6 separate regions of the Homo sapiens genome follow, and regions 1, 2, 4, 5 and 6 are each linked to region 3. The links come from fine-mapping of genetic effects on gene expression. A gene starts in region 3. Each other region holds a variant in brackets. All regions are shown on one strand. Distances are between the middles of the regions. Region 1 has its middle 20 kb from the start of CEP72-DT. Region 2 overlaps SLC9A3 (solute carrier family 9 member A3). Region 3 holds the start of SLC9A3 (solute carrier family 9 member A3). Region 4 overlaps EXOC3 (exocyst complex component 3). Region 5 overlaps SLC9A3 (solute carrier family 9 member A3). Region 6 overlaps SLC9A3 (solute carrier family 9 member A3).

Region 1 (4,083 bases), 68 kb after region 3:
ACTCACAGTTTCACAAGGCTGAGGAGGCCTCAGGAAACTTACAATCATGGTGGAAGGGGAAGCAAACATGTCCTTCTTCACATGGCAGCAGCAAGAAGAAGTGCAGAGTGAAGGGGGAAGCCCTTTGTAAAACCATCAGATCTTGTGAAAATCACTCACTATCATGAGAACAGCATGAGGGTAACTGTCCCCATGATTCAATGACTTCCCACCAGGTCCCTCCCATGACATGTGGGGATTATGGGAACTACAATTCAAGATGAGATTTAGGTGGGGACACAGCCAAACCATATCACTTCTGTTGTAAACATTTACTGGCTGCCTGATGTATTTCTAATGTGTTGAATGCTATAGCAAAAAGTCATGTATCTGACAAGACCTGAACAATTACACTGTTTAATTTTCCAATTTTGCTGTGGAAGGAACTTGCCTAAATGAGAGGGACAGAGACTTGCCCAAGATACAAGACATAATTAGCTAGTGATAGAGTTGTTATCAGGATTTTTGTCTCTAATTCCCATTTCTATTTTAGTCCACAAAATTCCAAAGGAAAAAGCACAATCCTTGCCTTTAAGAGTCCAAAAATATTCTTAGGGTGATAAATGCTTTTTAAATAAGTTAATGAATCATGGTCATAGTATTTTCCATAAAATTCCAGAGTTTCCTGTCACCAAACAAGGGAGTGTTAGGTATAATTAGATATGTTCCCCTGGTATCCTAAAAGAATTTTCTTATTAAGAATGTTGATGTGTTGTCATGAATATATTATTTATATTGGAAAATATAGATTGCCATTTTAGTCAATGACAGGTTGTCATGAACCCCACATACCAGTGAGGGCACAATCAAGAGACAGAAACCACAGCAATTATTTAAACACAGAAAACTGAAATGAAGGATTGTTAACCAGGCTTGGAGTTTAGCAGGCAACTGAAAGATATCTTGAAGGTAGAGGCTACTAGAGGAAGCTACTACACCTGTGGCTGGAGGAACAAAGGGGAAATATTGGAACTACTACTATTTTAAAATCAAGACCTCTGAGGAGGGGTACCTGCCAGCTTTAGCTGTTGTCTTGGGGCTCAGAGGGGGGGCCCATGACAGGTGGAGGTTGCATTTCATCCATGTCTCCACGGGAGGAGACGTAAAACTGACCATTTTCTGAAAAGATCGTTTTCTTCCCCCTACTGCTTTGCCAGCATCTTTGTGGTTCTCTCAGTTTTGTTTTCTTTTGTCTTTGTTATAAAAATAGCTTTATTTTAACTTTGTTCTTGAATGATATTTTTACTTGGAGTAATATCCTAGACTGGGAGTTATTTTTTGTTTCTTACACCATTTAAAGATTTTATTGCATTGTCCTCTGGCTTCCATTGTTTCTGCTGAGAAGTTGGATGTCTATCAAATTTTTGCTCCTTCTAAAGTAATCTTACTTTGTATGCTGGTTGCTTTTATGATGTTTATTTTTATTTTGGTTTTCTGTAGTTCACTACAGTGTGTCTAACATGTGGATTTCTATTTATGTTATCTATTTCACTGGAGATTTTTCCCTTCAAATCTTGTATCATTTTTTAAAAATTTCATTAGTTGGACTTCACCTTTCTCTAGTAACTCCTTGATTAGCTTAATAATAGACCTTTTGAATTCTTTTTCTGGCACTTCAGGGATTTCTTATTGGTTTGGATCCATTGCTGGTGAGCTAGCATGCACTTTTGGGGGTACTAAAGAATGTTGTTTTGTCATATTACTGGAATTGTTTTTCTGCTTCCTTCTCATTTGGTAGACTATGTCAGAGGGAAGATCTGGGTCTCAAGGGCTGCTGTTCAGATTCTTTTGTCCCACAGGGTGTTCCCTTGAGGTGGTGCTCTCCCCCTTCCTCTAGCGATGGGGCTTCCTGAGGGCCGAACTGCAGTAATTGTTTTGCTCTTCTTGGTCTAGCCACCCAGTGGAGCTACTGGGCTCCAGGCTGGTACAGGGGAGTGTCTGCACAGAGTCCTGTGACGTGCTCTGTCTTCAGGTCTCTCAGCCATGGATACCAGCACCTGCTCTGGTGGAGGTGTCAGGGGAGTGAAGTGGACTCTGAGGGTCCTTGGTGGTAGCGTTGTTAAGTGCGCTGGTTTGGTATAGGTTGGCCTCCAGCCAGGAGGTGGTGCTTTCAAGAGTGCATCAGCTGAGGTTTTATAGAGAAGATACAAGCTTGCCCTAGAGCCCCCAGGAGATTATGTCCTTTGTCTTCAGCTACCAGGACAGGTAGAGAAAGACCACCAGGTGGGGGCAGGGTTAGGCATGTCCGAACTCAGCCTCTCCTTGGGTGGGGCTTGCTGCAGCTGCTGTAGGAGATGGGGCGTGGTTCCCTGGTCAATGGAGTTATGTTCCCAGAGGGATTATGGCTGCCTCTGCT[G/A]TGTCATACAGGTCGCCAGGGAAGTGTGGGGAAGCAGGCAGTTACAGGCTTCACCCCACTCCCACACAGCCAGCAAGGCCAGTCTCACTCCTGCCATTCGCCCCCACTCCCAACAGCACAAAGTCTGTCTCCGGGCAGTGGGTGAGCAGGGCTGCAAACCTGCCCCAGGCTATCTGCTTCCCAGCTGAGAAAGTAAGCAGAGTTTTAAGGCTTTGTGCCTCCCCACCTGGACACACCATTGGTCTGGGAACACTGTAACCCAGGATCAGGGACAGGGGGGTCCTGGAGTTCCCAGATGACTTGGAGTTGGGCTGCGGCCCCTGGCAGGCTGGTTGACCTCAGTTTACCTTTTATCCCCATGAAGAGCTATATAGGTTCTCTTCCCAAGCAGGGGATACAGAGCAGAAACTTTATTCCTCCTGGGTCTTTGTGCCAACACTTGTCCCCCGACCCCAAAGTACTTTCAAAAGGATGGCACTGATTTTTAGCCACTGCTCCTGAAATTGGCATGGCCCACAGAAGGCATGTCCCCAGATCCCAGGCTCACCCACCTACAATCGCATTTCTCTTGGCTGCCAGCCGGGCTTGTCTACACCCAGATCCCAGGCTCACCCACCTACAGTCGCATTTCTCTTGGGTGCCAGCCAGGCGTGTCTACACTACTTGGTTGGTTTCCAGTGCCTTCAAGCAGATATGGTTCTATTTTGTCCAAGTTTTCCAGTTATCCTTGGCATCTGGGGGGGTATAGGTGATCTAGACTTCCATTTTTGGAAGTGGAATTTCCTGGGTTGATTTCTTTTCCTGTTTAATATTTAAAGATGCACTGTGGGCCATGTGCGGTGGCTCACACTTATAATCCCAGCACTTTGGGTGGCCGATGTAGGTGGATCACCTGAGGTCAGGAGTTTGAGACCAGCCTGGCCATCATGGTGAAACCCCGTCTCTACTAAAAATACAAAAATTAGCCAGGTGTGGTGGCGTGTGCCTGTAATTCCAGCTACTCAGGAGGCTGAGGCAGGAGGATCACTTGAACCAGGTAGGTGGAGTTTGTAGTGAGCTGAGATTACACCACTGCACTCCAGCCTGGGTGACAGCGAGACTCCGTCTCAAAAACAACAACAAAAACAAAAAGACACACTGTGCATGTCCCTGGCCCAGGGCAGAAGTCACAGCCCAGCCTGTTGCCATTAGACACTCTGTTCCGTGACATGTCCCACGAGTCCCACACGTTGCCGAGGCCAGATCTTTACTGACCACTGGAGCCACCTTATGGCCTCAGGATGTGGCTTTGCTGGCATTCCTGTGGAAGAGGCACTGCCCCATCCATGTGCCACCCTGTGCTGTGATGGGGAGCCTGGCTGCTGCACTCACACTCGGGGTGGAAAGCAAAGCCCGACCCCTAATTTAGCCAGTGGGACTCAGGAGCAGGCCATTCACTTGTTCAATTCTGTCCATACTGAAGAGACGCCGGGCCCCTGGCAAGAGGCTACAGAGCCTCTTGCTTCCCTCAGAACCTCTCCTGGGGATAAGTTCCTGTTGTCCCTAAGTCAGCAATGAGGCTGAACCAAAAAGCAATGTGGCCAGGCCAGGGAAACCTTCTCTTTACGGCCAAGAAGTGGGGACCTGCATCTTTGGCCAAAGCAGACTTATGGGATTTAAGGACAAAGAGGCTAAATACACAAAGAAAA
Region 2 (4,083 bases), 30 kb before region 3:
TTTGCCTTGGTGACCAAGGTCTGAGCTCACCCTGTCCCTGACGTTGTGGCCAGAGCCTGCTCCCACTTGAGGCTGGCTGTGTTTCAGACCCCTCCGGAGGGGCCCCATGGAGGCTGTGGCCCCCTCTCCTCGTGCCCCTCTCCTGGGATCACGGCCCCTGGGTGGGGTGTTCTAGGAAGAGTCTCTGGGTCCCGCCACTCCACTCCGCACGGGTGAGCTTAAGGGTGGACAGCAGGTCCTGGGGACCCCCCGTGGAGCTTCACCCCGTCCCCCAGCACCATCGCCCCTGCCAGGACCTCAGAGGCTCTGCCCGGCCCTGTGGGTGGGGGTGCAGGCACCAACCTATCTGGGCCATGTCTCCTGTGTTTTAGTTGGACTCAGAAAAAAAAAAAAAGGTGATGAGAATTCCTGCGCTCGGCCTGATTTCAAAATAGCGGGAAGCCTGACAAATGAGGTGCGTCCTCCGGCTTCGGTGATGTAAGGGATAATGAGCTTCTTCATTCCCTCAGCTGCTGGTTATTAAGTCTTCTTTGAAATTCAAAGGAAAGTTGTCTCCTGAGATGGCCAAGACCCCATTTAAGCACAGAGCAGCGGGAGCGGGGAGGCTCCCTCCACACCACCCGCCCCCGAAGAATGTGTCAGCACAGCTGGAGGGGCGGTGGAGGCAGTGGCCACGTCCCACCCTTCCCGACTGCGTGGCCCTGACGAGCTCGGCCCTCCCTGCCTGTTTTCTCCCTTGTAATTACGGAGCTCTTGCAGGGCCGGGTGCTGGCCCAGAGGAGGGAGGTGCTGTTCTGGATTTGCCGTTCCTTCCCCGAGGATGGTCTTACACCAAATACCACGGGTGGCATGGGCCCCTCTAGGGAGGGTGGCAGGCACAAGCTCCGCACCTGCCCGGCCACCAGCACTGCACTGCGGTCTCCCGACCCTGTCCCCAGGACAGCGGCTCTGCCTGCTGCTCCAGATTCCAAAACACCAGCCCCGGGAGGGATCGGGGTTCAGAGGCTCCTGCTTTCAGGATGGGAGGTCCTGCTGTGGGCCCCGTCCCCACCATGTGCCCCACAGGCTCTCTGAGCCCCCCGACGGCTCCCCCACTCCGGGCTGCACATCCTGCACAGATCTGAGCTCCACACCTGTCAGGCAGGGCAGCGGGGGTTGGCCCGGGGAGGCTGGAACCACGCGACAGTGATAACCAAACCAGGGGAGGGCATGGCCTGCAATGAGGGAGGGCCTGGCCTGGAATGAGGGAGGGAGGCTGTCCCTGGGGAACACGGAGGGTGAGCTCCCTGGAGTCCTCGGGGCCCCGCTCAGAGCTGGCCTGCAGGGTCCCGTCTGCTCCAGCTTTCAGCAGGAGAGCATCCGTAGGGTTGACCTTGCTCTCTCCCCACAGCTCTCCCTTCTCTAGAAGGTGCTCCCCAGCTGGGAGTGGCTGTGATGCACGTGAGAAGTCCTGGGACCCTAACGCGTGCCCCGACAGCCCCGTCCTCAGCAGCGCCCTCCCCAGATCTGGGCTCACGGGGCTGGCAGCCCAGCAGGAAAACAGGGGCCCCTCTTCTCTGGGCTCCACGGCCTGGTCCCTGTGGTGGCCAGGGACAGACCTGGCCTCGCAGAGCTTTGGGAAGAGACATGGGTGGCCTTCCGGGCCTGCGAGGGGAAGGCTGTGGCCTCTGCTCAGGGCAGCCTGGGACCCCCTCCACAGCCGGGACTCAGCAGGTTCTAGGCTGGCATGGGAGTCTGCACACTAAGGGCTCCGAGGCCTTTGGGAGTCCTGCTGGGGGTCCCTATGGTGCAGGAAGGCCTGGGGCAGGTGTTCCCACCTCTGCAGCCTCCTGATTTTTTTAATAATGTCCAGAGAGAAGTGGAGTTTACCACTTCCTTCCTTTCTTCCTGAGGGCTGTAAATCCCCGCCTTGGTGTCCCAAGCTGTGTTAGGAAGACCAGGGTGGTCTGTGCCCGGTGCCGGCGCCTGCCCACCCGCAGGCTGACCCGCGCCTCTCACATCTGTCCTTGGCGACGTCGTCACCTCTGCTGCTGGCGACGAGTGCCTAGCAAAGCCGGGCACAGCCGTGGTGATGGTGACCCCCTGGAGGCTGCCCAGCCGCTGGCAAGACCCACCCAGGCCGCTGTTTTCTACACGATGCACGTTCTTTGCCTCTGCCCACGTCCCAGGCTGGCTCCTGGAGGGGTAATCGGCTCACCTGTCCTCCTCTTTTCAGGGTCACAAGACCTGGGAGATGGTATTTGTCCAATAGCGCTTGTGGAGCAGCCAGCGGGGCACGTGTGGCCCCTCGGTGCCCGCCGGCACGTGGGCTGCTTTGAGGATAAAATCCAGCGACCACAGAGACCGCGTGTCCCCAGG[TG/T]GGGGGGCGCCGTGGCCGCAGGTCAGACCTGGGAAGCAGCGGGAGTCTCGGAGCTCCTGGACGCCCTCACCCTTGGTGGCTGCCGACACTTGGCCCGGGGTCTTTTTGTTGAGGGTTAGGGTCTTTCAGCCACAGTCTTCCAAAATTAGGTTCACAGCGATCACCACCGTTGTGAAGCCACCCCAGACAACCGCGGGCCAGCAAGTCAGGGACACAGGGACACAGGGACCAGCTTTGTCTTTAAAAACAACAACGCAACTCTGTGCCCTGGGGACTCACAGTGCTCCCCGCGCCATCGCCGACCCTCCCCACGCTCCACTCCCCGCGCCATCGCCGACCCTCCCCACGCTCCACTCCCCGCGCCATCGCCGACCCTCCCCACGCTCCACTCCCCGCGCCATCGCCGACCCTCCCCACGCTCCACTCCCCGCGCCATCGCCGACCCTCCCCACGCTCCACTCCCCGCGCCATCGCCGACCCTCCCCACGCTCCACTCCCCGCGCCATCGCCGACCCTCCCCACGCTCCACTCCCCGCGCCATCGCCGACCCTCCCCACGCTCCACTCCCCGCGCCATCGCCGACCCTCCCCACGCTCCACTCCCCGCGCCATCGCCGACCCTCCCCACGCTCCACTCCCCGCGCCATCGCCGACCCTCCCCACGCTCCACTCCCCGCGCCATCGCCGACCCTCCCCACGCTCCACTCCCCGCGCCATCGCCGACCCTCCCCACGCTCCACTCCCCGCGCCATCGCCGACCCTCCCCACGCTCCACTCCCCGCGCCATCGCCGACCCTCCCCACGCTCCACTCCCCGCGCCATCGCCGACCCTCCCCACGCTCCACTCCCCGCGCCATCGCCGACCCTCCCCACGCTCCAGTGAGGCCGCTGGTTACTGTAAAAGCCTGTTAACTGGGACACTGGTGGGTGAGGGACAGGCTGGCTTCAGACCAAACACTCCTGCTCAGAAGTAAGCCCTTAAAATCCACAGAAAACATCCTCTGACCTTGGTAGTTACTGAGAAAATATACATATATACGCACAAACGCCGCATAGGTGGGAGGGCGGCGGTTTGGAACATTCTGCCATCCGGGGTTGGAAAGGGTGTTGGACACGCCTTTCCCATGTGCGGTGGCGTCCGAGGGCAGCTCCTGCAGTCTTCAGGGTGTGTGTGTGTTGAGAGCTCACCTGTGTCCTCCTGCATGGGACATGCCGTCCCACCTGCCCACGGGGGAGGAGCCGCACCCATCCCCACCGGCCAGGCAGGCGTGAGCCACATCTCCTGAGGGGCCCAACCTAACAGCCTCTGACGACCTGTGGGTGACGCGTGAACGACCCCGTTCTGTGAAAGTGTCGGCTTGCTCCCCTGCCGGGCACTGATCCTTTCCTATTGACACGAGGTTCTTCGTAAGCTGGAAAATCCAGCCTTTGCTTATGTCTTCAGCGGCAGGTAGATTTTCACTTTCAAAAATGTTGCTCTCATCTTTCCACTTTGTCTTCTGTCATTTTGCTCCATGCGAACGTCTTTTCTTTTTATAGTTAAATTTATTGGTCTTTTGTTTTATGGCTTCTGAGTTTTGTGTTATACTTAACAAAGCCATTCCTGCTCATGTTTCCTGCTAAATTTTTTAGCAGGAAAAATAAAGGCACTCAATTAAATTTTCCTTGAAGGCTGGACTTAGTGGTTCACACCTGTAATCCCAATACAACAGTTTGGGAGGCCAA
Region 3 (4,083 bases):
CTCTGTACACTGGGCTAAACTGGGAGAGGCCCCAGCTTGTACAGAAATTAGATATTCACGGCCGGGCGCGGTGGCTCACGCCTGTCATCCCAGCACTTTGGGAGGCCGAGGCGGGTGGATCACCTGAGGTCTGGAGTTCAAGACCAGCCTGACCAACATGGAGAAACCCTGTCTGTACTAAAAATACAAATTAGCTGGGCGTGGTGGCTCATGCCTGTAATCCCAGCTACTCGGGAGGCTGAGGCAGGATGTGGAGGTTGCAGTGAGCCGAGATCGCGTCATTGCACTCCAGCCTGGGCAACAAGAGCAAAATTCTATCTCAAAAAAAAAAAAAAAAGAAAAAAAAAGAAATTACCTTTTCAGTTTACACCAGGGGGGCACTCCCGTCAGAGGAAAGCAGGGTGAGCTTTAGGACTGGGCGGCCGCAGAGCCCAGGTTGAGTCTGGACCTCCCTGATGCCCCAGGGGCCCTTCTCAAGGAAATCAACTGTAGGAGGCAGCCAGCCTCAGAGACTCCCCCCCGGCCAGCATCCCAAGCCCCCAGTGGAAAGCCCAGGGAGGACAGCCTGAGCCTGGAGAGCAGGCAGCCCGGCGGGGAGCTGAAAGACACCAGGGCGAGGAGGAGGCTGCGGAGAAGGGAGGAGGCGGGAGGGCTCAGAAGAGCCCTTATGAGACAGAAAGCAAACACACAAGGGGCCTGAAGGGGAGGGGAGACCCTGGCATAAATAGGGCAGGCGGCAGGCGTCACTGAAGGAAAAGGCGCCTTCTCCAATCAAGCCTGCTGGGCGTACCAGGTTCCACCAAGGCCAAGGTCCTCTCAGCTGTTCTCCCCGGAGCCTGTCCCTCCCCTGTCCTGCGTGGGCGCCCCTCCTCGGCCCCAGCATCGAAACCTCCTCTCGCCCCAGTCCAAAGCTGCTCTGGAAACCTGCCGCGGCGCCTGCTGCTCTGATCTTGCTTCTCCTGGCCCCACTCGGGCCCCCTAATCCCCCCTCCACACGAGTGACCACCTCCCTGCCACCCCTGGAGAGACCCTACCCTGTGGACCAACACATGAAACTTTGATCCCCACGAGCTCCTCAGGAAGCTGACCTTCCTGTCACCTTGCCAGGAGCTACCTGCCGTGCCCACATTACTGGTTCATTGGCGCCGGTTAAGAAGAAGAGAAATCTGACCGACCGGGATTTTCTAAAAAAAAAAAAAAAAAAGGAGGCCCGCCAATGGGAACGCTGCGCCTGTAGGGAGGATTCTGCTGGGTTTCATGCGGGTAGCACCGCTTTTCTTTTCTGCCCTTGTAACTCACGAAAAAACGCCATCACTCCAAGGACGTTTCTCTAAAAAGCCTGAGAACCCCGAAGGAAACCCGGCCCCGGGGACTCCCTGGGCGCGAGCAGCCTGCAGTCTGCGGGGCTCGGAGCGGAGGCGGGGCGGAGACCCCACAGGGACCCGGGAGCCGGGAGTCCGGGGCTCCGAGGCTGTGCCCCCGCCGGGGAGGGGAGACCTCGGGACCCGCAGGGGCGGCTTAGCGCGGCCAGAGTCGCTCCCGAGTCTCGCTCTGCTGGACCCGAGAGCCGGACTCTCCCGGGCGGCCGCCGCGCGGCTCCGACCTGATGCGCGCGGCCACAACGAAGCCCCCAGGCCCAGCAGAGGCGGCCGCACACCCCGCGGGCAGATCCGGAGACCCCGGGGCCACTTACCGATCTTGGCCAAGCTGGCCACGAGGATCCAGAGCGCGATGACGTAGGGATCCTGCACGTGGGCCCACTCGAAGGTGACCACCTGGAAGCCCCCGCTCTCGCCGTGCGCGCCGCCGGGCTCCACCTCGACGCCCCCGGCCCGCGCCAGCCCGCCCAGCGCCAGCGCCAGCAGCAGCCCCCGGTCGGGGCCCCGGGCCCCGAGTCCCCACATTGCCGCCTGCTCAGCGCAGGGCTGGGACGCGCATGTCGCGGGGGGTCCCGGCTGGGCTGGGCCGACGCGCGGGGCTGGGACCCGGCGAGGACCCGGCGCGCTCCGGTGCCGGTACCGGCTACAGTCCGATCCCCGCCCGCCGGGGTGGCCTTTAATCCCGCGGCCCCCTCCCGCCCCGGGGCGGAGCCTGCCCGCCCCCGCCGCGCACTCGCGAGCGCAGACACCGCCGCAGCTCCCGGCACGCCCGCCCCGCCCGCGCACGCCCACCCCGCGCTCCCTGGTGCCCACCCTCCCCCGGAGCCCGCGGCCTGGAGGTCCGGGAGGTCGCGGCAAGAGCGAGCCCGGGACTGCGCGGCCGCCTTCCTGGGGCGTGGGGAGCACAGCGCGGGGCAGCGGGACAGGCGGTTCCGCGCAGCTCCTGGGATGCCCGGGCAGCTGTGGGTGCGCTCGCCCCAACCCTCCTTCATAAACGCAGGGCCTGGGGCTGCGCAGACCCCACAGGGCGGCCCAAGGGTGCACAGGGGCCCCAGGTGTGTCTTCACACAGCCCCTCGCTATTGTCTTCAGCAGGAACCTGCATTCCACAGCCGGACCGGCCACTTACCAGAACTCGGGGGCGCCCAGGCCTTGCGTGGTGCGCTGGTAAGTCTCTCTGCCCCTCCCATCGCCAGCCAGCATCCCCCACCCCAGGCTCTGAGATGGGAGCCCAGGGGCCCCCGTGGTCTCCCCTGCCCCATCCCCTGCCTTTAGACCTCCGCCCAAAACAATTCGATACCCCCAGGGCTTCACACGGATGCGGGGCCTCTGCCCACAGCCCGCTCCGGCAGCACTGGCTCTCTTAAGCATCTCAGGCTCCACTGTGCAAACCACACCCCTGTTTTCCTCCAAGCCCACCCTGCAGCCTTCCAGCCCCAGACCTGGGACGCAGGTGGACTTCTTTCGCTCACAAGGTTTCCAAGCTCTTAGCATATCTGCTCTACTTTCAAAATGTGCACAAAACCAGCGGCTTCTGGGAGCCTGCAGCCACCTGCAAAGGCTCCTGCTCGGCCCTCTACCTGCCCCTTCAGTCCCTCCTATTGGGACCCTCCCTCTCAGAGGAAAGGCTCAACGTCTCCCGGGAGCTCAGACCCCAGCCACTGCCTGACCCCCACCCCCATGCACTCCACGGCCCACACCAGCAATCGGCGCCTCTCGGGGCCTTTGCACGCCCTGCTCCCTCTGTTTGGACGGCTCTTGTGTGCTCCCTTCCTCAGCTCCCCAGGGGCTTGGCTCCAATGCCACCTTCTGGTCCCACCCGATACCCACTCAGCTCACAACTGTGGCAGCTAAGCTCCCGCCTCCCCTGCTTACTCGGTTGGCTCCGGGAATCAGCTCACCTCCCAGCCCTGGGGGCTGCTGGCTTTGACCTTGAGCTGTCTGCCCTCACCCTGGGAATGTCTGCTCCACGAGCAAGGGGCTCATGCATACATCCCAGGAGCTTGGAAGATAGCTGGGCACACAATAGCACTCGCAAGATAGTGGCTGAGCGGATGGATGATAGATGGATGGAAGGACAGATAGGTGGACAAAGGGCAGGTGGGCGGTGGGGTGGGTGCAGATGGAGGATGGATGTGTCTTCTGACATCTGAGTGGGGGCTGCGGAGGCCTGAGGAGGACAGTGCTGAGTTCAATGACTTCACCCTGCAAGGGCCCCAGTTTCATGCTAATGGAAGTGGCCCGTGTAGCACAGGGAAGGTGCATTCAGATGGTGCTCGCCTGGTGACTCGGCTGCTGAGTGGCGTGGAGGGAGGGCAGCCCTGGCCTGGGCCACTGCAGGGTCTGGACAGGGCACCGGGGGAGTGGAAGTGTGTGACTGGCCACTAGTATGGTCTTGCGAGGTGGGAGCATCGGAGTCGCTCTTGGCCTGTGTCCCTGCCCCACCTGTCTCTGTCCCCCACTCCACTCCCAGCCTCTTGTCCCAGAGAAAAAGCCAGCAGGACAAGAACAGGATTCCCTCCAGTCCGGAGCTTCCCTGCTCTTTCCTTATGGTTCCTGGGTGGAGCCGTTAGGAACGACGTCCTCTCTGAAGATGTTGCCCTTGCATTCCACAGGAAGGCCAAATTTCCACCAGACCAGTGTGTTCCATGATGCCCACTGGACCTCCGGCCACCCCACCCCCCAACCAGCCTGTCCTAAGAGCC
Region 4 (4,083 bases), 58 kb before region 3:
CTCTGGTGAGAATGGCCGGGGCCCTGTGGCATGGCCCTCGAGGTGGAGGGAGCCATGGTTCCCGGAGAGGCCCGCGTGCCCCGTCTTAGCTCCTTGCCTTCCACTCACTCCCTGAGGCCCCAGGGATTTCTTTCCGCTTCAGACCCTCCTTCCTGCAGGACCCAGGTTCCTCTTTCCTCCAAAGTGCCTGCCGCGTTTTCCAGATGCTGCGGTCGTTATCAAAGGACAGCAGCAGCCACTGACACGGGCCTGTCTGTGGACCGAGTGCTCATGCGCGGCACTGCCTCGCCCGCGTCTGTCCTGCTGGGGGCCGGAGCTGGCCTGGTGCGGGGGTCCAGGTCACCGTCACTGTTCCCCCACTGAGCCCCCGCTCCTCCTCTGCGGTGAGATGCCAGAGCCGTGGCGGAGCGAGGAGGAGTGGGCTCAGAGCCTCCGGGGAGCCACCGGGAGCCCCAGCCTGGGTTTCAATGAGGGTGCTCCTGGCCGCCAGAGCCGTGGAGCCTGCCGCTGACCGCGCGTGTCTCCCCAGAGGATGACGGCCGAGGCGCACCGGCGCGTGGTGGTGGAGTACCTGCGGGCGGTCATGCAGAAGCGCATTTCCTTCCGGAGCCCGGAGGAGCGCAAGGAGGGTGCCGAGAAGATGGTTAGGGAGGCAGAGCAGCTGCGCTTCCTGTTCCGGAAGCTGGCGTCCGTGAGTGTCGCGCAGGTCCGGGCTGGAGAAGGCCTGTCGCTCCGCGGCCCTGTTCAGCCTCCACCCCGGGACTCGGGCCAGTAGATGGGAGTGTGTCGTGTGTTTGTCAGGCGGGGGGAGCCTGGGTCCAGGTCCTGCCTGACCTTGTGGTTGGACACGAATGTCCACAGAGGTAGACGCGCCGGCCCCGCCGGCTTCCCGAGGCCGCCCACAGCTCCCTGACGGACGCTTCCCAGTCTGTCCTGCGCTGCGAGGTGCTGGCTGCCTCCCACGGTCTCGCCCTCACCCCAGACCCCTGGCCCTGTCACTGAGCTTTCAGAGTAGATCCTGAGGAGTCAGGTGAAGAGGGAGGTTCCCAGTCAGGAAGGGGCTCAGCCAGAATCCAGCTGCTCCCAGCGCCGCGGGACAGCCGAGGGCGGCTCCTCACATTGCTGCTGCCTTCCAGGGTTTCGGGGAAGACGTGGACGGATACTGCGACACCATCGTGGCTGTGGCCGAAGTGATCAAGCTGACAGACCCTTCTCTGCTCTACCTGGAGGTCTCCACTCTGGTCAGCAAGTATCCAGACATCAGGTAAGGGATGCACGTCTTAGAATCCTGCCTTAGAATCCTGGAGTGGAGCGGCAGGTCCCTCCTTCTGTCTGGGGCGGGTGGGGCTCCTGGTTCGCAAGTTCAGCCCTGCAGCACGGCAAGGGTTCAGGTGCGGCACAGCGGGGCCCAGGCGCAGGGAGCAGAGCTGCTTCTGTGCTGCCTTCCACCTGGCCTGGGCTACAGTGTGGGTGGGTGGAGCTCGAGGGGCACATCCCGGGTGGGGACAGTGGGGTGGGGGCGGGGCTGTGACAGCTCTGCTGTGTGTGGTGGGGAAGATTTGGGCTGTGGAGTGGCCTCAGTGGGGCGAGTTTAGGAAGTTTCCTCTGTGCTCATGGTGGACTCGGGAGGGCCCAAGTGCAGCTTGGACCAGACACCTTCCGAGGACGTGATTACAGGGAGTCCCCAGTACCAGGTCCAGGGAAGGGGACCCACGCACGTCCCCCCTCCACCATGCTGGCTCCAGGCCCCAGGCCAGCCTT[T/C]GCGGCCCCTGTCTCAGGGCACCTGCCACTTCCCCAAGGGGCCACCTCCATGGCTGCAGCCGCGTCACCTCCGTCCCATCATCTCGCTGGTTAAACGTGGAAAAACGGGGTCTTGAGCTCTCCACGGTCTCCCCTCTGGTTGGGCCGGAACAAAGATTTATAAAAGCAGTGTTGAAAAATCTTTCTGCAATTGGATTGAGAAAAGACAGAGTAAGATGAAAATGCAGGCTTGTCTCCCGCTGAAAAGGGAAAGGTGCAATTTGTCTGCAGCGGTCCTCACCCCCTGTGTTCTGTCAGCTGGGGTGGTGAAGCCGTGAGTCCCTGGCAGCGTGGTGCATCACAGGGCTGCTAAGTGGGCATGGGCTGACATCTCCCCATCCCCAGGGATGACCACATCGGTGCGCTGCTGGCTGTGCGTGGGGACGCCAGCCGTGACATGAAGCAGACCATCATGGAGACCCTGGAGCAGGGCCCAGCACAGGCCAGCCCCAGCTACGTGCCCCTCTTCAAGGACATTGTGGTGCCCAGCCTGAACGTGGCCAAGCTGCTCAAGTAGCCTCCGCCGGCCTGCCCTGCTCGCCCCTCCACAGCCTCGGTCCCTGCCTTTAGAAACGCGGGACAGCTGATTGCTCTCCTTGGCCACACGTGCTCCTTTTAGCTGCACGGCCTGTCTTTAGGTGCCAGTGTGATGCACCGGGTGTGCGTCGAGTGAGCGTCCCGAGGCCACGTGCGGAGGCCCCTCACTGTGCTGTCAAAGGCCTGTGGGTGCAGGGCTCTGCCGCACAGCCTCTCTTGGGTGCTTGTTTGTTGCAGTGGTTGAAAGTGTGTGGGGCACAGAGGACGTGCACCTCCCTGCCCTCCTCCTCCCTGGGCCTTCACCGCACCCCATCTGCTTAAGTGCTCGGAACCCCGTCACCTAATTAAAGTTTCTCGGCTTCCTCAGAGAAATGAAAACGCCATGCATTCTCTTTTCCAGTTAAGGTTTTCTGACTACTGATCTAGGATTGCCCAGGAACTGTTGTCAATCACAGAGTAAAAGTCTCCGCTCAGCCTGGAGGGCGCCCTCCTGGTCCCCTCCTGTCTGACATCCCCTCAGCCTAGAGGGCGCCCTCCTGGTCCCCTCCTGTCTGACATCCCCTCAGCCTAGAGGGTGCCTTCCTGATCCCCTCATGTCTGACATCCCCTCAGCCTGGAGGGCGCCCTCCTGGTCCCCTCCTGTCTGACATCCCCTCAGCCTGGATGGCGCCCTCCTGGTCCCCTCCTGTCTGACATCCCCTCAGCCTAGAGGGCGCCCTCCTGGTCCCCTCCTGTCTGACATCCCCTCAGCCTGGATGGCGCCCTCCTGGTCCCCTCCTGTCTGACATCCCCTCAGCCTAGAGGGTGCCCTCCTGATCCCCTCATGTCTGACATCCCCTCAGCCTGGATGGCGCCCTCCTGGTCCCCTCCTGTCTGACATCCCCTCAGCCTAGAGGGTGCCCTCCTGGTCCCCTCATGTCTGACATCCCCTCAGCCTAGAGGGCGCCCTCCTGATCCCCTCATGTCTGACATCCCCTCAGCCTGGAGGGCGCCCTCCTGGTCCCCTCGTATCTGACATCCCCTCAGCCTGGAGGGCGCCCTCCTGGTCCCCTCCTGTCTGACATCCCCTCAGCCTGGAGGGCGCCCTCCTGATCCCCTCCTGTCTGACATCCCCTCAGCCTGGAGGGCGCCCTCCTGGTCCCCTCGTATCTGACATCCCCTCAGCCTGGAGGGCGCCCTCCTGGTCCCCTCCTGTCTGACATCCCCTCAGCCTGGAGGGCGCCCTCCTGATCCCCTCCTGTCTGACATCCCCTCAGCCTGGAGGGCGCCCTCCTGGTCCCCTCGTATCTGACATCCCCTCAGCCTGGAGGGCGCCCTCCTGGTCCCCTCGTATCTGACATCCCCTCAGCCTGGAGGGCGCCCTCCTGGTCCCCTCGTATCTGACATCCCCTCAGCCTGGAGGGCGCCCTCCTGGTCCCCTCCTGTCTGACATCCCCTCAGCCTGGAGGGCGCCCTCCTGGTCCCCTCCTGTCTGACATCCCCTCAGCCTGGAGGGCGCCCTCCTGGTCCCCTCCTGTCTGACATCCCCTCAGCCTGGAGGGCGCCCTCCTGGTCCCCTCCTGTCTGACATCCCCTCAGCCTGGAGGGTGCCCTCCTGGTCCCCTCCTGTTTGACATCCCCAGAGTTACTCCTTGGGTCCTTTGAGAGATGAGACACCAGCTGCACCCAGCAAGCCCTGTCCCCACCCCCAGGTGAGCAGACCTCTGGCACCGGGTGTTGCCAGCCAAGTCAGCCATACCTGGTAGA
Region 5 (4,070 bases), 46 kb before region 3:
ACAGCTTGGCCGCCTTCTTGTTCTGGTTGAGCCCCAGCTTGGTCGACTTGAAGGACTCCAGGCGCTTCCGCATGGTCCTGTGGAAGATTTCCCGGTCCTGTTTCTCGTCCTCCGTGGGCGTGAGCTCGTGTCGGCTGTACAGATGCTTGTACTGCGGGATCAGGCACGGAGGTCACAGCTGTGCCCACCGCCGGACATTCTCGCCCTCCTGCCGCAGGAGCTGAGCACGGATCCCCCGTGGTCCCAGGAGGGGACGAGGAAGCCGCCCCACGGGGTCCCTGCGGGGTCCTCCAGCCCCCAGCCCGCAGTGCCCACCTCCTGCCGCGGCTTGTACAGGTACTGCTGTAGCGTGTGGTGCGTGACCATGTCCTCCGCGTCCCGGATGCTCCGCCGTCGCTGCTCCAGAGACTGCATGTCCAGGCAGACAGCGCTGACATTTTCTCTCCTGCGTGGGGACCAGCGCTGAGCCATACAGGCTCCCTCAGGGTGGGGTCTCTTGCGCGCCCCTCGCCTTCCCACGGCGGGCATCTGGCCCTGGCTGCCTCCTGCGTGCCCCTCGCCTTCCCATGGTGGGCACCCGGCTGGGGCACGGGGACATCTGCCATCTGGCCAGCCCCTTCTCCCCTCGGGGCTTAGGCTGACTCCCCACGAGGCCTTCCTGGCCTCCTGTCTGAAGTGGGTCCCTTTCCTTACTGGTCCCTCTCCAAAGCCCTGGCTGTAAGACTCGGGGACCCCAGCATCTGCACATCTGGCAGAGTGGACCTCCTATGAGAACTGGCTGTGAGCTGTGGAGCCCAGGGCCGGAGGAGCAGTAAGGGTGGCATGGGGACCAGGACAGGCTGCTGCGGGCCAGGGGCAAACACGTCAGGCCTGGCCCCCAGTCCGCTGCTGCCCCTCCCTTTCACCTTCCATCCAGCACTAAGGGAGTCTGGCCACGGCCTAATATAGGAGGGCTTGTGGAAGGAGACACCCACCCCCTCTTTCTGCACCTCTCCCCTCTTCCATGCCACCCCCAGGCCAGGAGCCACCACAGCCCTGTCTGTGACTCTCAGCTCCCGAGGCTGGGCTCTTCCCCAGGGAAGCTGCATGACCATGGCCACATACAGGAGGTAGGAGACAGAGGCCTCCACGGTGGACGATCGTGGCGTGAAGTCCACGTTGACCACGTTGTCGGTGCTGGGGGAGCGGATGAAGGCCAGGGACCCGCGGCGCTCTCCCTGTGGTCAGGAAGCAGCCCGGTCAGTGGCCTGAGCAGCCAAGCCCTAGCTGCTGCCATTGTGTGCCCTGGGGGGAAGCGCCCAGAGCTCGGGGCCCGGGGAAAGCCTTGAGACCTGAGCCCCGGGTTCACGCCTCACAGCTGCAGAGGGAGGGGTGGAAATGCCAAAACCAGGAGATCAGATTTTGAGCCCCTGTCCGTCTGAGGCCACAGCCAGGCTGCTGCCTGAACTGGGCAGAGGTCATGCTTGTGGGAGGACACAGTGGTCTGAGTGTGAAGGGGTAAAGCTGCCTGGGACTTGGGATGTGTCTGGGGAAAGTGTTGATACTGCAGAATCATTGAAGTGGTCTCTGTCCCTGCAGGAGACCCTAAAACTCCATTGGCCTCATGTCCAGAACTGAATCAGGTAGAGAACGGAGCAGAGCCCGATGGGGCACAGAAGCCACACAGCTGAGTGCCAGAGGATGGAAGTGGGGCCGCCTATGTGTCCTCAGACCCCACCCGCCTGATGGCAGGGCCTGGAGAGCATGAGGTTGTGCAGGAGCACAGGGCAGAGTGGGCTTATGGCTGGAGTCAGGGTCCCCAGGGCCGGCAGGGGCACGGGTGTGGAGGGAACGTCAGCTCACTGCACTCAGACCTCGCCAGGTGGGCACCCGTGCCGCCTTCAGTGTGCAGGATGCTCCCAGGGAAGCCCCCGGGGTCAGGTGGGTGCCGCTGTTCCCACTGAAGATGCGGCCCCCAGTTCACTGCCCACTCGGGGGGGATTTGAGGGTCATTGGTTCTGAGGGCCCTCCGCCTGCTCTTTTGCTTCTAAATCCAGCATCTTCTGTATGACCTTTGTCCCGCTCCTGCCACCCCACGAAGACAGACGTGAGGGTCAGGGGAGCCACGGTGCTAACTGCCACTCTGGGCGGGCACAGGCGAGGGCTGTGCAGCACCCGGGCACGTGGGGTCTTCGGAGGGGCTGCTCCCCACACCACTTCCCCTGCCCCTGCCGAGCCCTGCCGTGGGGTGGGGGGGCGCAGGGAGAGAAAGCAGC[C/T]GCCCTGGGTGAGAGCCAGGAGGGACACTGGGCAGGCAGATGCCACCCCAGGTGTGGGGACCCCCGCTACTGAGTGGCCGGGAGGAGCCCACAGGCTCCCCACATGCAGCTGAGCCCAGGGTTGTGGTCGTGGGTCGTGGGTCAAGGATGGTGGCTGGTGTGGTTGGGGGAGAGGCTCAAGGCCCGCCTGCCAACCTTGTCACCTATGTGGGGGTGAGGGGAGCCCGCCAGAGGCCAGAGCCCCCACTGTCCCTTCCCACCCTCCAGCCAGGCTCCAGGCCTCCTAGGGCCAGAGTATCTGAGCTTTCTCTCGCTTGCCGGGCCTGTGGTTTGGGGGTTTGTGTGGAGCCTGGTCCAGGAGCCCTCCTTCCTGATCTGCACTGGCTGGCCCTCCTGACAGCCCCAGGCCCCCGTGCCCTCTGCCAGGAGGTGCCTTGCCACTTGGCATGGCCCCAGTCACGGGTGGCACATCTGGGGTGAATGCACGTCAGTGGAGGCAGAATCATTCTGTCTGAATGAATGGAGTTTCCAGGCCCCCACTGGCCCTCTGTGTGAGGGTCTGCAGGGTTTGGCAGGACAGGTCTTTCTCTCCGGCGAGAGCACCCACCCTGACCGGCTGCTGGATGAGGGCACCAAAGCTCGCTAGGGAGGGCTCTGTCCTTAGGGAGGAGCTGCGGAATCCCTGCAGCTGTGCCCCCAGGCCCTGCCTTGCACACTTCCTGCAGCCAGGGCGCCCCTGGGGAGGTCAGGGCAGGCCGGGGAGGCTGAGGCCCACCTGCCATAGTGGGCAGGTGCGGGAGCCAGGGCGGCAGTGGCCTCGGGGCTGGGTGGGGCGCCTGGCCTCTGGTCTCTGGAGCAGTCAGGGGCTCTGCAGACGCTGAGAGGCCTGCTCATAGTGGACTGGGAGATGCTGGAGCAGCCTCAGAGCCATGGCCGGCCCACAGCGGGAGACGGCCCTGCTGCTGCCCCTCTGCCTGTGCGTGTGCACCTGTGGGCACCTGCGTGTGCTGGGGCAGGCAGGGCTGTATTGGGACCAGGTCCCGTAACAGCCTGCCTGCTTACCGTCTGCTCCCATCCCTGGGGAAAGCAAGGGAGCTCGGGGTCCTAGGACCTGACCTCAGCGCTCACCCCCACCAGCACCACAGTCACCAGGACTCTGTGACTCAGTTTACCCCACGAGAGCCCCTGGGATTCCCAGGGCATCAGAAGGCCCATCAGCCTCCCGTGAACTGCTGGGGTGGGCCTGGCCTTGGGACGCGGGTGCAGGGGCCTCTCCTCACTGCCCCATGGCACCCACAGCCAGTGCCAGAGCCTGCTGCAGCCCCGACCCGGCAGAGCAAGCGGCTCTGCTACCTCAGCCACGTAGCTGATGGCATCCTTCAGGTTCAGCTCGTGGAAGACATTCAGGATCCGGTCTCGAGACTTCTGGGCCGACCGTCTCATGAGGACCCTGCTGAGGAACTTCCTGTCGAAGTGGGACCACCTGTAGGGACAGACCTTGGGTGTGAGCCTCAGGTGACAGGCGCCCTAGAGCCCGCCGGACGCGTGGCCCGGCCCCTTCTCTCCTGAATTTTGTTTGCTATAGTGACCCTGTAGGCGCGTTTAAAATGAGGGAAGCAGCCCCTGCCACACGCCCAGGCCGTCCGCCGTTCTCCCGCCTGTCCTGTTGGATGGAGGCCGTTAGACGCATATGAAACTGCATGCCGCCTCCTCCAGAGGGTGGCTCAGGACACGGTGGGTGTCAGGCCTGGTCAGGCAAGGGGGCTTTGGCCACATGGGGGGCACCTTCAGGTGCACAGGAGGAAGGGCAGGGGC
Region 6 (4,083 bases), 22 kb before region 3:
GCAGGCGTGGATGGGGCTGGTGTGGACATGGGGCTAGTATGGATGGGGCTGGTGTGGATGGGGCCGTGTGGATGGGGCCAGTGTGGATGGGGCTGGTGGGTGTGGACGGGGCTGGTGTGGACGGGGTCAGTGTGGACACAGGGCCAGTGTGGACATGGGGTCAGTGTGGAAGGGGCTGGTGTGGATGGGGCAGGCGTGGATGGGGCTGGTGGGTGTGGACGGGGCTGGTGTGGATGGGGCCAGTGTGGACACAGAGTCAGTGTGGACATGGGGTCGGTGTGGACGAGGCTGGTGTGGACACGGGCCGGTGTGGACAGGGCCAGGCCCTGAGTCCGCCTGCCACAGCCCGTGTGGCTTCCACACAAGGGGACAAACCTGGGGACACGCAGGCCCTCAGGTAACTGATTGCCGAGGCTGGAGAGTCACAGCTAATTAAGCACACAATGGCTTGGTGGCCTGATGGTTACGACAGGGGACAGACGCTTTTAGTTCTAATTACAAACCCTGTGCCTGGAGGAGGAAGGGCCGGCGCTGGCAAACCAGACATTTCCGGATGGGCGCCGGAAAGGGCTTCTCTCTGGGCCCCGGGGGGCTCAGGAAGGCCACGGCCCAATGCATGTCACACCCCTCGGAGCACAGAGGGACGGGGCTTGGTCAGGCCCAGGGCCTCCGCCACCTCCAAGGACCTTTCAAGGTGGCAGAGATTCAGCCGAGTCCACAAAAATGCAACAGCGCAGTCAATCCTGTGGTTTTACTTTAACAGGAACACGTCCCGGAGGATTAAACTCTGCCTCCCAGAAACAGCCTGGCTGAGCGGTGGGGCGGTGAGGCCAGGAAGGAGGGCGGAAGCACAGGTACCCACCCTCCCGGGGGACGAGGGGCCGGGGCATTCCACAGGCAGGCGCAGACACATGCAGGAACACGTGCACGCACACAGAGACTCGCAGAGACGCAGAGACGTGCAGAGACACACAGAGGAGACACGCACAGGGTCCACCCTGTTCTCCTAGCACAGCTGTGGGTCTGAGTTCTCTGCCACCCGCCCCTGCAGGTCCAGCAGAGCTCGCCAGCACACTCTGACCTCAGTATCACTTTACCCGCCTGTGGGGCACCGGCGAGGAATCACGGTAAATGTGTCGGCCGTCAAGCCCAGGGCGGAGGTAAAGGTGCTCACGGAGGTCCGCCGTGCGGCCTGGCAGACGTGCCTGCGTGACCCCACGCGTCCCTGCCTGCGGGTGCAGTTCCCCGTGAGTACTCAGGTTGGCGTGGGACAGGGGAGCCGGCTCCCGGGGGCCACGCAGGAAGCCCCTCTCCGAGCGAGGCCGGGCCCCCGGGCCGGGAAGCTGCTTCCTGCCAGATGAAGTTCACACAGCTCCAAGAACAACAGCCCGTTCAGGACTGGACTCCCTGCGCTCAAGTCACAAGGCGTTTTACACATTGTACATTTACAACACTCGAGCAAACCTGGTCGGTTTTTAAATTGAAACATGAATGTTGCCCACGGTTCCCTAGAGAATCAGGAGATCCTTCGACTCCAAACCACCCTGAGCAACCGCGCTGGGGCAAAATGAACGCAGCCTCTGAGCCAGCCACGGCCTCTGTCCAGGACGCTGGGCAGACCCCACACCCCTTCCTCTCTGGGACCCAGCCGCTCCGGCCCCCCACCCCCAGAGACGGCCCAGGCCCCCTTATTAGCAGCGTGAGAACAGACAGACACAGGCAGGTCCCAAGCTGCCCACAGCAGAGGAAAGACCTGGATGCAGATCCCAGCTGCCACCACCTCAGGGCTTTGCTCA[A/C]AGCAGCAACAAGCTTCAGCTACCGCAGACCCAGCGGCGCCTACCAGGGGCCGCAGCGGAGCACAGTCCCCGGCAAGACACCGGTCGCAACGTCCTGGGGCAACGGAAGTCACGAGACACGTGAAGTGGGAATGTGGCCCAGCTCAAATCAGAGGAGAACGCAAGATGGTCAGACCCTGGAATCAGCAGACAAGGGCCTAAAACAGCAGCTCAAGGATAGAAAAGAAACGTTCTCATAACCACTTAAAAAGGACAAGCCGCAGCGGTGGAGTGGAACAGGGCTTGGCACATTTTTTCTTAAAGGCAGATTGTGAGTATTTTAGGTCCTGCAAGCTGCCAACAGGAGGATCACTTCATAACCACTCACTACCAGTGAGGCCGAAAGCCGCTGTAACGACACAGACGGGCGCCGAAAGCCGCCGTAATGACACAGATGGGCGCTGTGTTCCAGTGAAACTTTACCACTCACTACCAGTGAGGCCGAAAGCCGCCGTAACGACACAGATGGGCGCTGTGTTCCAGTGAAACTTTACCACTCACTACCACTGAGGCCGAAAGCCGCTGTAACGACACAGATGGGCGTTCCAGTGAAACTTTATTTACAACAACCAGTGGCCGGCCCACGGGCTGTAGTTTGCTGATGCCTAAAATAGAACTTATCAAAGAGAACCAAGCAGAAACCCTAGAATCTCTGACATAAAAACTCAATGGATAGACTTACGAGCAGACAGAAATGACAGTAAAGAGAGTGAACTGGAAGACAGATCAGAAGAAATCATCCCATCGGAAGACCAAGGAGAAAAAATGGTTTTTAAAGTAACCAGAGCCTCAGTGGCCTGTGGGGCAAAATCAATAGCTTGTAGCCGCAGCACTTTGGGAGGCCAAGGCAGGAGGATCGCTTGAACCCAGGAGTTCAAGACCAGCCTGGGCAACACAGCAAAACCCCTTCTCGACAAAATAAATTAAAACATTAGCTGAGCCTGGTGGTTTGTGCCCATAGTCCCAGCTACTCAGGGGGCTGAGGCCAGAGGGTCCATTGAGCCTGGGCGGGTTGAGGCTGCACCCCAGTCTGGGTGACAGTGAGCGAGGCCCCCATCCTTGCCCAGAAAAAGGCCTGATATATGTGTAGCTGGAGCTCTGGAAGGAAGGGAGAATGGGGCGGGGAAACCTTGAAGAGCGAATGGTAAAAAATGTCCCCAGTTTGGTGAAAGACACACATTTATAGATTTGAGAAATTTTGCAAGCTCCAAGCAATGCAAGTACAGGGAAAATCCTGCCTGTGGGCACGGCACAGTCAGACTGCTGAAAATCAAAAACAAATGGAGAATCTTTCCATCTGTATAATGTGTGTGAGTTACCAATAAAGAACTTTCTTCTTGTTCCATGAAATGGGCAAGGAAGGCGTGTCTGCTGGAAATCTCATCCACGGCTGTGGTTTCTCCTGAATCGGCGAATCGTCTGCGCGAGGCTGGGGCCTCTGGACAGAAGACTGGGCCCCCAGAGCTCTTGGGGGGTTCCCATCTTCACCCGGTGCCTGGATTCTCAGGGTCCCACCCACCCCCACCTTCCTCACACTTCACCCTCTCTTCTCTCTTGCCCTTATAAAATCATTCACTTCAAAGTAGAAATTATGAAACCGTCTTCATCAATCACGGAAGTTTAGCATTCCCCGTGTTTTTGCCTTTGGTTTATCAACAACTAAACAAGGGAAGGGAACAAGCTTCTGCAGAAGCTTCCAGCAAGGAGACAGCGTCCTATATGAGGCGCCTGGGGAGGGAAGGTGCCGGAAGGCATCGCTGTGGGGCTGCCGCCAGCTCCGGAACCCCCGGGAACCCAAGGGGCACACGTCTCCCCGTGTTCTTGCAGCCCCCGCGTCCCGTGACCCACCCAGGAGGTGTGACCTGCCCTCCTTGCTTCAGGCTCCCCTCTGTAAAGTGAGGAAATAGCCCCCCGGGGCTGCAGCCAGGGCCCAGGGCGGTGGACATGCAGGGTCCAGGACTGGCTGAACCTTGAGCCGCTGCAGGGGCCGTTGGATTTGGCCCTCGGGAGAGAACTCCACAGCCTCCTCCAGTGTGTCCGGCGGCGGCAGCCAGGGAGGGTGCCGGGACCTTCAGACCACACAGCAAGCGGCCAGATCTCAGGCTCCCCGGGCTCACGGCCCCGCTGCCTCCTCCTGTCACCCCCGGGTGAGCCCAGAGGGCTCGGGGTGGGGACAGCAGACAAACCCTCAGCTGCTGGGCAGTGCCTCCCTCTGGGGCCATGGGCACCGGGACCTGCACCCCTCAGC

The links. PIP is the estimated chance that this variant, and not a neighbour inherited with it, causes the effect.
Region 1: its variant is fine-mapped to the expression of SLC9A3 in whole blood (TOPMed, PIP above 0.99).
Region 2: its variant is fine-mapped to the expression of SLC9A3 in esophagus mucosa (GTEx, PIP above 0.99).
Region 4: its variant is fine-mapped to the expression of SLC9A3 in thyroid (GTEx, PIP above 0.99). The same link has a PIP of 0.9 or more in adrenal gland.
Region 5: its variant is fine-mapped to the expression of SLC9A3 in subcutaneous fat (TwinsUK, PIP 0.95).
Region 6: its variant is fine-mapped to the expression of SLC9A3 in unexposed skin (GTEx, PIP 0.99).

Annotation. Positions count from the first base shown.
Region 1 is chr5:589,927-594,009 of GRCh38, forward strand. No RefSeq gene overlaps it. Among named protein-coding and RNA genes, the nearest start is that of CEP72-DT, 20 kb to the right of the region's middle. The variant G/A (reference allele first, on the strand shown) is at 2,396.
Region 2 is chr5:492,736-496,818 of GRCh38, forward strand. The region is part of intron 1 of SLC9A3 (solute carrier family 9 member A3); the gene reads right to left. Among named protein-coding and RNA genes, the nearest start is that of SLC9A3-AS1, 22 kb to the left of the region's middle. RefSeq lists an enhancer at 3,207-3,730. The variant TG/T (reference allele first, on the strand shown) is at 2,359.
Region 3 is chr5:522,419-526,501 of GRCh38, forward strand. It overlaps SLC9A3 (solute carrier family 9 member A3), which reads right to left and starts at 2,031. Exons shown (of 17, transcript NM_004174.4): 1 at 1,694-2,031. The coding sequence starts at 1,904. It overlaps LOC107986395 (a long non-coding RNA gene), which reads left to right and starts at 2,240. Exons shown (of 2, transcript XR_001742543.1): 1 at 2,240-2,545; 2 at 3,994-4,083. RefSeq lists an enhancer at 3,598-4,083.
Region 4 is chr5:464,582-468,664 of GRCh38, forward strand. It overlaps EXOC3 (exocyst complex component 3), which reads left to right. Exons shown (of 13, transcript NM_007277.5): 11 at 530-691; 12 at 1,137-1,264; 13 at 2,146-2,709. The coding sequence ends at 2,317. Among named protein-coding and RNA genes, the nearest start is that of SLC9A3-OT1, 6.3 kb to the right of the region's middle. The variant T/C (reference allele first, on the strand shown) is at 1,762.
Region 5 is chr5:476,228-480,297 of GRCh38, forward strand. It overlaps SLC9A3 (solute carrier family 9 member A3), which reads right to left. Exons shown (of 17, transcript NM_004174.4): 10 at 3,609-3,738; 11 at 1,105-1,217; 12 at 316-445; 13 at 1-151. It overlaps SLC9A3-AS1 (SLC9A3 antisense RNA 1), which reads left to right. Exons shown (of 7, transcript NR_125375.1): 3 at 5-336; 4 at 1,017-1,109; 5 at 1,579-1,622; 6 at 3,555-3,989. Among named protein-coding and RNA genes, the nearest start is that of SLC9A3-AS1, 5.0 kb to the left of the region's middle. RefSeq lists an enhancer at 1,937-2,106. The variant C/T (reference allele first, on the strand shown) is at 2,256.
Region 6 is chr5:500,623-504,705 of GRCh38, forward strand. The region is part of intron 1 of SLC9A3 (solute carrier family 9 member A3); the gene reads right to left. Among named protein-coding and RNA genes, the nearest start is that of SLC9A3, 22 kb to the right of the region's middle. The variant A/C (reference allele first, on the strand shown) is at 1,797.